Homo sapiens: one gene and its partner. The protein of the gene in region 1 interacts with the protein of each later gene in a biochemical or structural test. Each region holds a gene or a part of one and is shown on either strand. Other genes may lie near its edges.

What was found.
Region 2: the proteins of RASSF2 (region 1) and RASSF5 form a complex in vitro, tested with the Homo sapiens proteins (one study listed by BioGRID).

What each region holds. Positions count from the first base shown.
Region 1 is NC_000020.11:4,782,003-4,785,912, reverse strand, and holds part of RASSF2 (ras association domain-containing protein 2), read left to right. Parts: intron 1-1,570; coding exon 1,571-1,640; 3' UTR 1,641-3,910. UniProt on the Homo sapiens protein: Potential tumor suppressor. Acts as a KRAS-specific effector protein. May promote apoptosis and cell cycle arrest. Stabilizes STK3/MST2 by protecting it from proteasomal degradation.
Region 2 is NC_000001.11:206,510,405-206,514,314, reverse strand, and holds part of RASSF5 (ras association domain-containing protein 5), read right to left. Parts: intron 1-3,910. UniProt on the Homo sapiens protein: Potential tumor suppressor. Seems to be involved in lymphocyte adhesion by linking RAP1A activation upon T-cell receptor or chemokine stimulation to integrin activation.

The DNA of each region.
Region 1 (3,910 bases):
GACTGTACGCTGGTTTCTTAAGTATACGATCAGGCTCCCAGCAGGAGACAGATGCTCACTCCGATGAGGGTCTTTGACGGGTGTTTGAAGAAGGGACTATTTGCGAAGACTTGGGCAGAGTCTGGGGTAACCTCAAGGGATAGTGCAGTCCCTGGGGCTAGTGTTACCACCCCTTGCCTGAAGGGGTGAAGGCAAGGAGTGCTAACCAAGACCCGGAGGTTCCAGGGATTTCAGGAAGGCTGTCTTAGCCGTGGATGTAGCCTGAGCTACTGGCCTCCAAAATCCTCTCCTCTCCCCCTTCCTCCCTTTGTAACATTTATCTTCTGGAAATTGCATTTGGATTGAAAAATAAAGCGGCTTTCTGGGAAGGATTTTGTGATTTCTTTGCTATGTTTAGTCATAGAAGAGACTGCCTTTCATAGATATGGTGGAATTAATGATTCATTTTTGCCACTGGAGAATAAAGCCGCTGCTGGATTTGCTGTATCGATGATCATAACTAGTCTGATAACACACTGAACACTTACTATGTCCTAAAGTTTTTGTTGTTGTTGTTGTTGTTTTGTTTTGTTTTGACACAGAGTCTTGCTCTGTTGCTCAGGCTGGAGTGCAGAGATGCGATCTCGGCTCACTGCAACTTCTACCTCCCAGACTCAAGTGATTCTCCCGTCTCAGCCTCCCCAGTAGCTGGGATTACAGGCATGCGCCACCATATCTAGCTATTTTTTTCTTTCTTTCTTTTTTTTTTTTTTTTTTTGTATTTTTAGTAGAGACGGGGTTTTGCCATGTTGGCCAGGCTGGTCTTGAACTCCTGACCTCAAGTGATCCACCCTCCTCGGCCTCTCAGAGTGCTGGGATTGCAGGCGTGAGCCACCATGCCCAGCCAACTATGTCCTAAACTTTAAAAATAGCTTTTTCTGTGCAGCACAAATCCCTGAACATAAGGAATATGTCCATTGATCCCTGCACAACAGTGCCCACTCCTGCAGCTGCAGTGCCACGGCTCAGGGAAGTCGTGGGAAAACAGAACTCCCCCCAAGCCACGGACCTCCACGCCTAGTAGCTGCTATGGCCTCTTCTGCAAAATGCAGGTTCTGTTATAAGGTTGAACCATACGAAGTTGCCATTTTTGTAGGATCCCCAAGAGGGTCAACTGTTAGCAATTTTATATCATCTAGCCTAGGTGAGGGTTCATGAGCTGCTGTGCATATGAAGTACTATGCATAGTGTCTTGGACATAGTAAGCAAACGCACTGAATTCGTAGAATGCTTATTATTGCTGTTGTTTTTTTTTACCTTTTTTTTTTTTTTTTTTTTTTTGGCTAGATGTTCTACCCATAGTAAAATAATCTAATTTGGATTTGGCCTCTTTATTTCCTCTCATCGTGTTGTAGGAATGAACATAAGCAACAAAGTAGCTAAAGAGGGGTCAGTAATGGAAGCAAAGGAGCAGGGCACTTGACTGCACTGTTACCTGGTGTGACCTTGGTGTTACCCAGGTGGCCGGGAAGGTCCTGGGCAGGGGTGTGTTGCTGGCTGCTCTCCATCTGAGCCTGTTTCTTGTCTCCAGGTACACCGTGCTCCGGCTAATGATTCGACAGAGGCTGGAGGAGATAGCCGAGACCCCAGCAACAATCTGAGCCATGAGAACGAGGGGATCTGGGCACCCCAGGAACCGCCATTGCCCATAAGACCCCCAGGAAGCTAGGCACTTTCTTTCCATGGAAACATTTAGACACAAACCTCCCCAGCTCCGGCCAAGCCATCATTTGCTACCTGGAGCTGGATGTAGAAGTCAGCAGACAGCTCCCTATCCCTGGACCCCTGCCCTCCTTTTTTCTGCTCACAAGGACTTTTGATTTTAGTTATAAGGAGGACCCAAAATGTGTGTGTGTACATGTGTGTGCACACATGGTACGTGTCCATGTGCCTACCTGATACTTTCACATGTAATTAAATTCCAGGCAACCAGCACAAGAGCCGTGAGCTTGGCACATGTGCTGCTCGTGAGCAGGAAAATCAGAGGAGCCACTGATCTGAGTGGTATTTAGGTTGAAGGAAAGATTTCTCCTCTCAAGTGCCAGGGAGCAGCCACACGTCTGTCTGTGTTTAGAGAGGGAAGAGGGTTCTCCAGGTTCACCATTTGGGTTGTTTATATGTTGGTAGAAATTCTCCCTGTATGCCTAGAAGGATCAGTGAATGTAAGAGCCTTGGAAATTAACAAAATAACAGCCACATAACCTTGCGGCAAGTCTGATGGAAAGAAAAAGATAAACCATCCGTGGGGTAGATGCAATAAGCCCACGTATTTTTACACTGGAAACGTTGATTGTTTTAAATGACAAAGACATATGTGATGTTCTATGTGGAAACCTGTGAAGAGTGGATTCTGCCTCCATCTCTGCCTCCATGGCTACCTTTAGGAGACAGAGAAGATCCTGTGTGTTTCTCTGTACCCAGCTGACAGCCTGTCTCTATGGCGCTTCCTTGAGTGGAAGGAAATGTCTCAAGAAACAAAGATCTCGCTGGTGCGTACACAGTGCTGACCAGCTAGTGTGGCCAGGGCCTGGTGGCCTGGTGGCCAGGAAGTTTCAGGTTGAAGGGAAATGTCGAGGCTACCTGCAGATATGACAGGTGCCTTGAACGCAGCCCATCTTCATGTCATCAAAGGTCTTCCTGCACTTGAAGCTGGGGCGATGTTTGCAGTCAAGACCATTCTTTCCAACCTCTGGGTTCTTGCAAGTTGCCCTCACCTTGTGTGTGGAGATGCATTCCAAGAATGAAGCCTCATCTTGCTACTGAGTGTGGGGTTCAGGGAAGCTCTTTAGGCCACCTGGTGAAGGTGCATGGGGAGGATGGAGCTTCTCCTCAGCTCCTCTGAGCAGCCACCTATGTGATCTTTAAATCCAACCCCAATGGGAGAAAAGGGCAAGAACAGTCTGTGCCCTGGGACTCCTATCAGGAAGCTTGACAGGCAGCTGGGCATCAGTGCAGCTGATATCGTTTGAGGAGGGAGACAGATGCTTGGACCTGGGTGCCTGGCTATGGAGATTGACCAAGCAAGATCAGGAGCTCCTGATAGCAGGCGTCTTTGAGCCTAGCTGGGGTAGAGGCACTGCCCATCTCTTCTCCACCTTCTCTCCACAGAATGTTTGCAGAGCTGGGCAGTTGAGGAAAGGACAGCCCCTGGTTGGTGCCTCCAAAGGAAGGTGGACTTTTTTGGTGGAGACGTTTCTGCCCTGGGCACCCTCCTGCCCCCGATTCATACCTATGGCTTCTTGAGAAGGCTCACAGCTGTGGTCTTAACGTAGACTGCAGAAAGATGGCATGCGGCCCCTGGCATTTCGCCAAGGGTTTTATAGCAAGTCTCCTTCCTCCATAGGGACAGCAGCACCAGCCCTGTGGGGCATGGAGTGGAAGCCCAGAAGGGCTTCTGCAAGCTGCACAGAACTGGGGTAAGAAGACAAAGAGTAGCCACCGGGAGAGGCTTCCTTTGTTACAGCTGGGAAAGAACAGTTCTGTGAATGCAAACACCTCCTGAGTTTTGCAATTGAGAAAATGATTTGGAGAACTTCTCTTCTGGTAATTTTTATTTTGAATGTTCAGGGCCTTAGTTGGCCCCAGTAATTCTCCTTGGAGGACTTGGGAGAAGAATTTCCACAAAGCAAACTACTAACCACTAGCTCTTACTGGACAGCGATTTCTGGCTTATAAGAGTTCTCTTTGATTTGCACTAGCACTACGATAGTGTTAGATGGGGAAATACTGCAACATGTCCAGTTGGCCAGATCACTTTCCAAGGGAGCGATACTAAGGCAGACTCAGCTTTTTAAAGATGGGAGGTCAGGAGGTGGAAGTGAGAGGAGATCCCATCTCACACAACACACTTCCACGTAATGCAGACCACACT
Region 2 (3,910 bases), on another chromosome or scaffold:
AAATCCGAAAGAAAATCTAGAACCTGCTACAATTCCCAGGGGTCACCAGACTCCTCAGCCAAAGTGGGGCATTCTCCCCTGGGAGGCTGGACACATGCTATGATGCCAGGAGGGACCCCACTGCCCTTCCTCCTTCCTCTCCAAAAAGGGTAAAAAAAGAGAATCAAACCTCAAAGATTTCCCAATGGGTACATCTCTCACAAACCTTTGTGTACTCTAGGAACCACAGGCATGCTAGAACAGGCCCGGCATGGCCTTGTGGGCCACTTCAGCCAAAGACCACACCATGGAGAGTTCTTGGGGTCTACCAGGCTCTGCCCAAGTCTCCTCAGCATAGTTATGAGTGCTTCAGAAAAAACTCAAAAGTCACTTCCCCAGGTGTGAGTCAAGATAGTCTTGACCTTGGGGTGGGGCAACCCATGACTGCTCCCAAGCCCCGACTTTATTCCACTTAAACCAGTGCCCCCAGGGAACCCAGCCTTCTGCCTGGTCTAACGTCATCACCTCAGCCTCCTCGCTGTTTCCCCTAAGCCCCAAAACTGGCTCTGTTCCCCTTCCGACCCTGAGATCCAGCCCGGAACATGTGGAGAAAGGCTTGCCAAAAGTCTTGGAAAAAAACTGAAAATGACTAAATGCAAAACCATCTCCCCAGTCAGGCCCGGCCTTCCCAGCTGCCGCCAGCCCTTCCCCACCCAGCCATGGAGAGTCAGAACAGAGCCCTGCGGGAGGGGCAGGTGCCCAGAGTCAGCAGAGACAGAGCGAGACCCTGCAGGGAGGCAGAAAGCATCCTGCCACCAGCACAGACCCAGGTCTGCAAGCTTGTGAGAAGGAAATCATACCAGCTGGTGCTGACTGAGCCCCAGGAACATGGTTCCCTCAGAAGGGCTGGGGGTGGGGAGCTTGCATGCTTTGCACACCCACAAATACTCACCCACCCAAGAATACTCACCTTGCCATCTGAGGAATGCGAACAGGAAGGGCCTCTGGTGAGGCCAGAGATGTGTTTACAGGTTCCTCAGCAGCCTTCATAGTAAGCCTGGGCAGAGCAAGAATGCCAGCAGCTGCCCTCCATGGGGAAACTGAGGAATGAGGGGTGGGTGTGGGAGCCAGAGAGAACCCTGTGGGAGAACACTGGGGTGCAGGAGCTGGGACCCACCCATGGCCATCCCACCTCAGGTAGCAGCCTCTCACACAGAGGTGCTGACTCTGAAGCCCAAAGCGGGGGAAATGGCTTGAGGGCCTGAGACAGCACCAAAGCCTTGAAGACCTGTCAGAATGAGGCCCGCCCGAGAGGTTCTAACTTTACCACTGTCCCTGGCAAAGCCAGCAGGTGACTCCTGGCCAGGTAATTCCCTTTCAGCTGAGCTAAGCATCCCTGTATCCCTGTATTCTGACCTCATGAAACTATTTTGAGCATGAATGTAGCAGCGGGCATGAAAACACTTTGGGCTCTTCAGAGAAAAGGCACTACTGACATGCAAAGAATTCTTCTTATGCCCATTCTCAGACCTGGGTTCGGCCTTGCGGCAGCTTCCCCTGAGCCTCTGGCCCCTGACCTGCTCACACTTCACAGGAGGTAGCTCCCTGACAGGATAAATTCACTCTCCCACCGAGGCAGGGCCCTTGGGACTGGGCTGGGGGCTGTCTTTTCTTTGTCACTCAGGGACTACCTGCCAGGCTTGGCACAGGCTGGCTCGCCGGTAGAATTGGGGAGAAGAGAGAGGATATCAGACCAAACCCTCAGTGCTGCGGGGAGATGTCAATTCACTTCCACCTAATAACTCCGCAGGATCAGCAGGCAAACACACACGTTCATTACCAAGTCTAATTAGGCTGGCAGACAAGTGGCATTAATCATTTTTGACTGTACCTGGGATTCAAGCCCCCCACACTCCATAATCAGAAAATTTCATGCTCTGATGAATAGTGGGGAAAATTAAGCGCACATTTAATCCTTTCACTTTCATCTTTTGATAAGACAGGAAGCAGGGAGGAGAGGAAAAACGGGCTGCAGCGTGGGAAGCTCAGAAGGCCTCTTTGAAAGCATTCCAGGTCCTTTCCCTGGCCCCTAACGCACACATCCTCCAACAGGACCTTGCCCAAGAAGAAGATCCCAGTTAGAGCCAGGGGTAGGAGAGGGCTTGGGAGTGGGGGATTCTCACAATCTTTAACAACAAAATTTCCATTTCTGTGCTTCATTTTCTTAAACTCTAAAGCCAAACACGGGGCTAAATCAAGGAAAACACACGCTACACACTCAGTGCTGCTGGGTGCGCAAATACCTTCCAAGTGCCCAAGGTAAATAAATACAGAAGCCGCCAGAACAACACAGGATGATTTCTGAGAGGCCTGAAATGAAGACCTTTCTCTGCTACAGAAAGAATCAATGCCAATGTCCCAGGAGCCTTTTTCACAAAGAACCCACAAGCGGGGGATGGGTCTGCAGGATCGGGGGCTGTCACGCAGGCGGTTCCAGCTGTGCAGAAAGTGCAGAAAGTGGAGCTGAACCCAGCCAATAGCGTAGCAACAAGACTAGAGAGACCAGACTAGAGGCCCAGGGAGATATCAGCCATTCTTAATAAGAATAGTCCCGGTGCCCTTCCCCGAGGGCTGCATGGCAGGGCCTTGTAGTCACATCATTAAAATCTATCACAGAGTGGGGAGGTTAGTTGGCCTCCCTTTCAACCATGTAATTCCAATCACTTAACACTTCACAGCTCTGAATAACGCCCCCTCTGGAGAGAGACTCCGACTCCAGGAGCAGACAGGTGGCATTCACTGACAATGGCCAAGGTGTGTCTAAGCATCTCCAGGAGGGTTTGAGTCAGGCTTAGGTTTCTCCAAGTGCCAGACCATCCCCTGGTCCAGGATGGCTTACGCAGCCACCAAAATGAGATGAAAGGTAAAAGGCCACCTCCATGCGCCTTCTACAGAAGGAACACTAAGGGACGTCATCTGTAAGGGGAAGTCCCTGAGAATAAAGCCAAAGGGCAGCCAGTGAGTTTCTCTGGTTATTTGCTGTTGACCATTCCCTCCTAGAATGCTAGAAATGCATTCTCGCCATCACCATCACCCCTACCCCAAAACACACACATGGGCTCACAGGACCTTTCGTTCTCTCTCTGCCTTTCCACAGATCCCCACTGGATTTCCTTCTCTATCTCACAACTAGGAGTTCTTTAATCCTAGAAATTAATATTAACTCTGAACTTCCCTGTTCACAAATCCAGCATTAACCAGAGGTTGGTTACAGACCTTGAAGTGGGGTAAGCTTAGGTTAGATGAACTTTTGCTAAAAAGGCAGACAGTGGGAAGAGTGTTTTCCAAAATGCTTTCCTTACTAAAGTGCCCTTCTGCCAACATGGTTCCCACCCAGTGTCAGTCTCCTGGGCAGACAGATGTCACTCACATACCCACTGCCCTCCTGCTTGTTTCCAAGGGCTGGGATATTTAATAGCACAAACAAGCCATCACTTTCATCACTCACCACATAGTGAGACCCTGCTCTGGGCCTGGCACTCTGCTGGGTGCAAGAAACACAAAGACAAGGAGCCAATGGCTTCGTGGCCCCTATGCCAGGCAAAGAAGGGTCTCCTCAGCCACAGCAGGACATCAGGTAGGAGTGGCATTTCTAGAGGACACCTAATACCCAAATTTTCTGGGATGTCTATGGCAGTCACTTCCCCACTTAGCTCAGCAACCAGGCAGAGTTCGCAAATTGTACTCACTGCTTCGAAAGGTAATCCTAGGAGGTGTCACAAGCCCAGACTAGTTGTTACAGCTGTTAGATGGGAGGGGACAATAACAATCATATCGAATTAAACATTCGTATTGCATTTTGCTAGGCCCTGTTCTGAGTGCCTTATGTATATTAATCCATTTAATTCTCAGATTAACATGATGAAGTAGG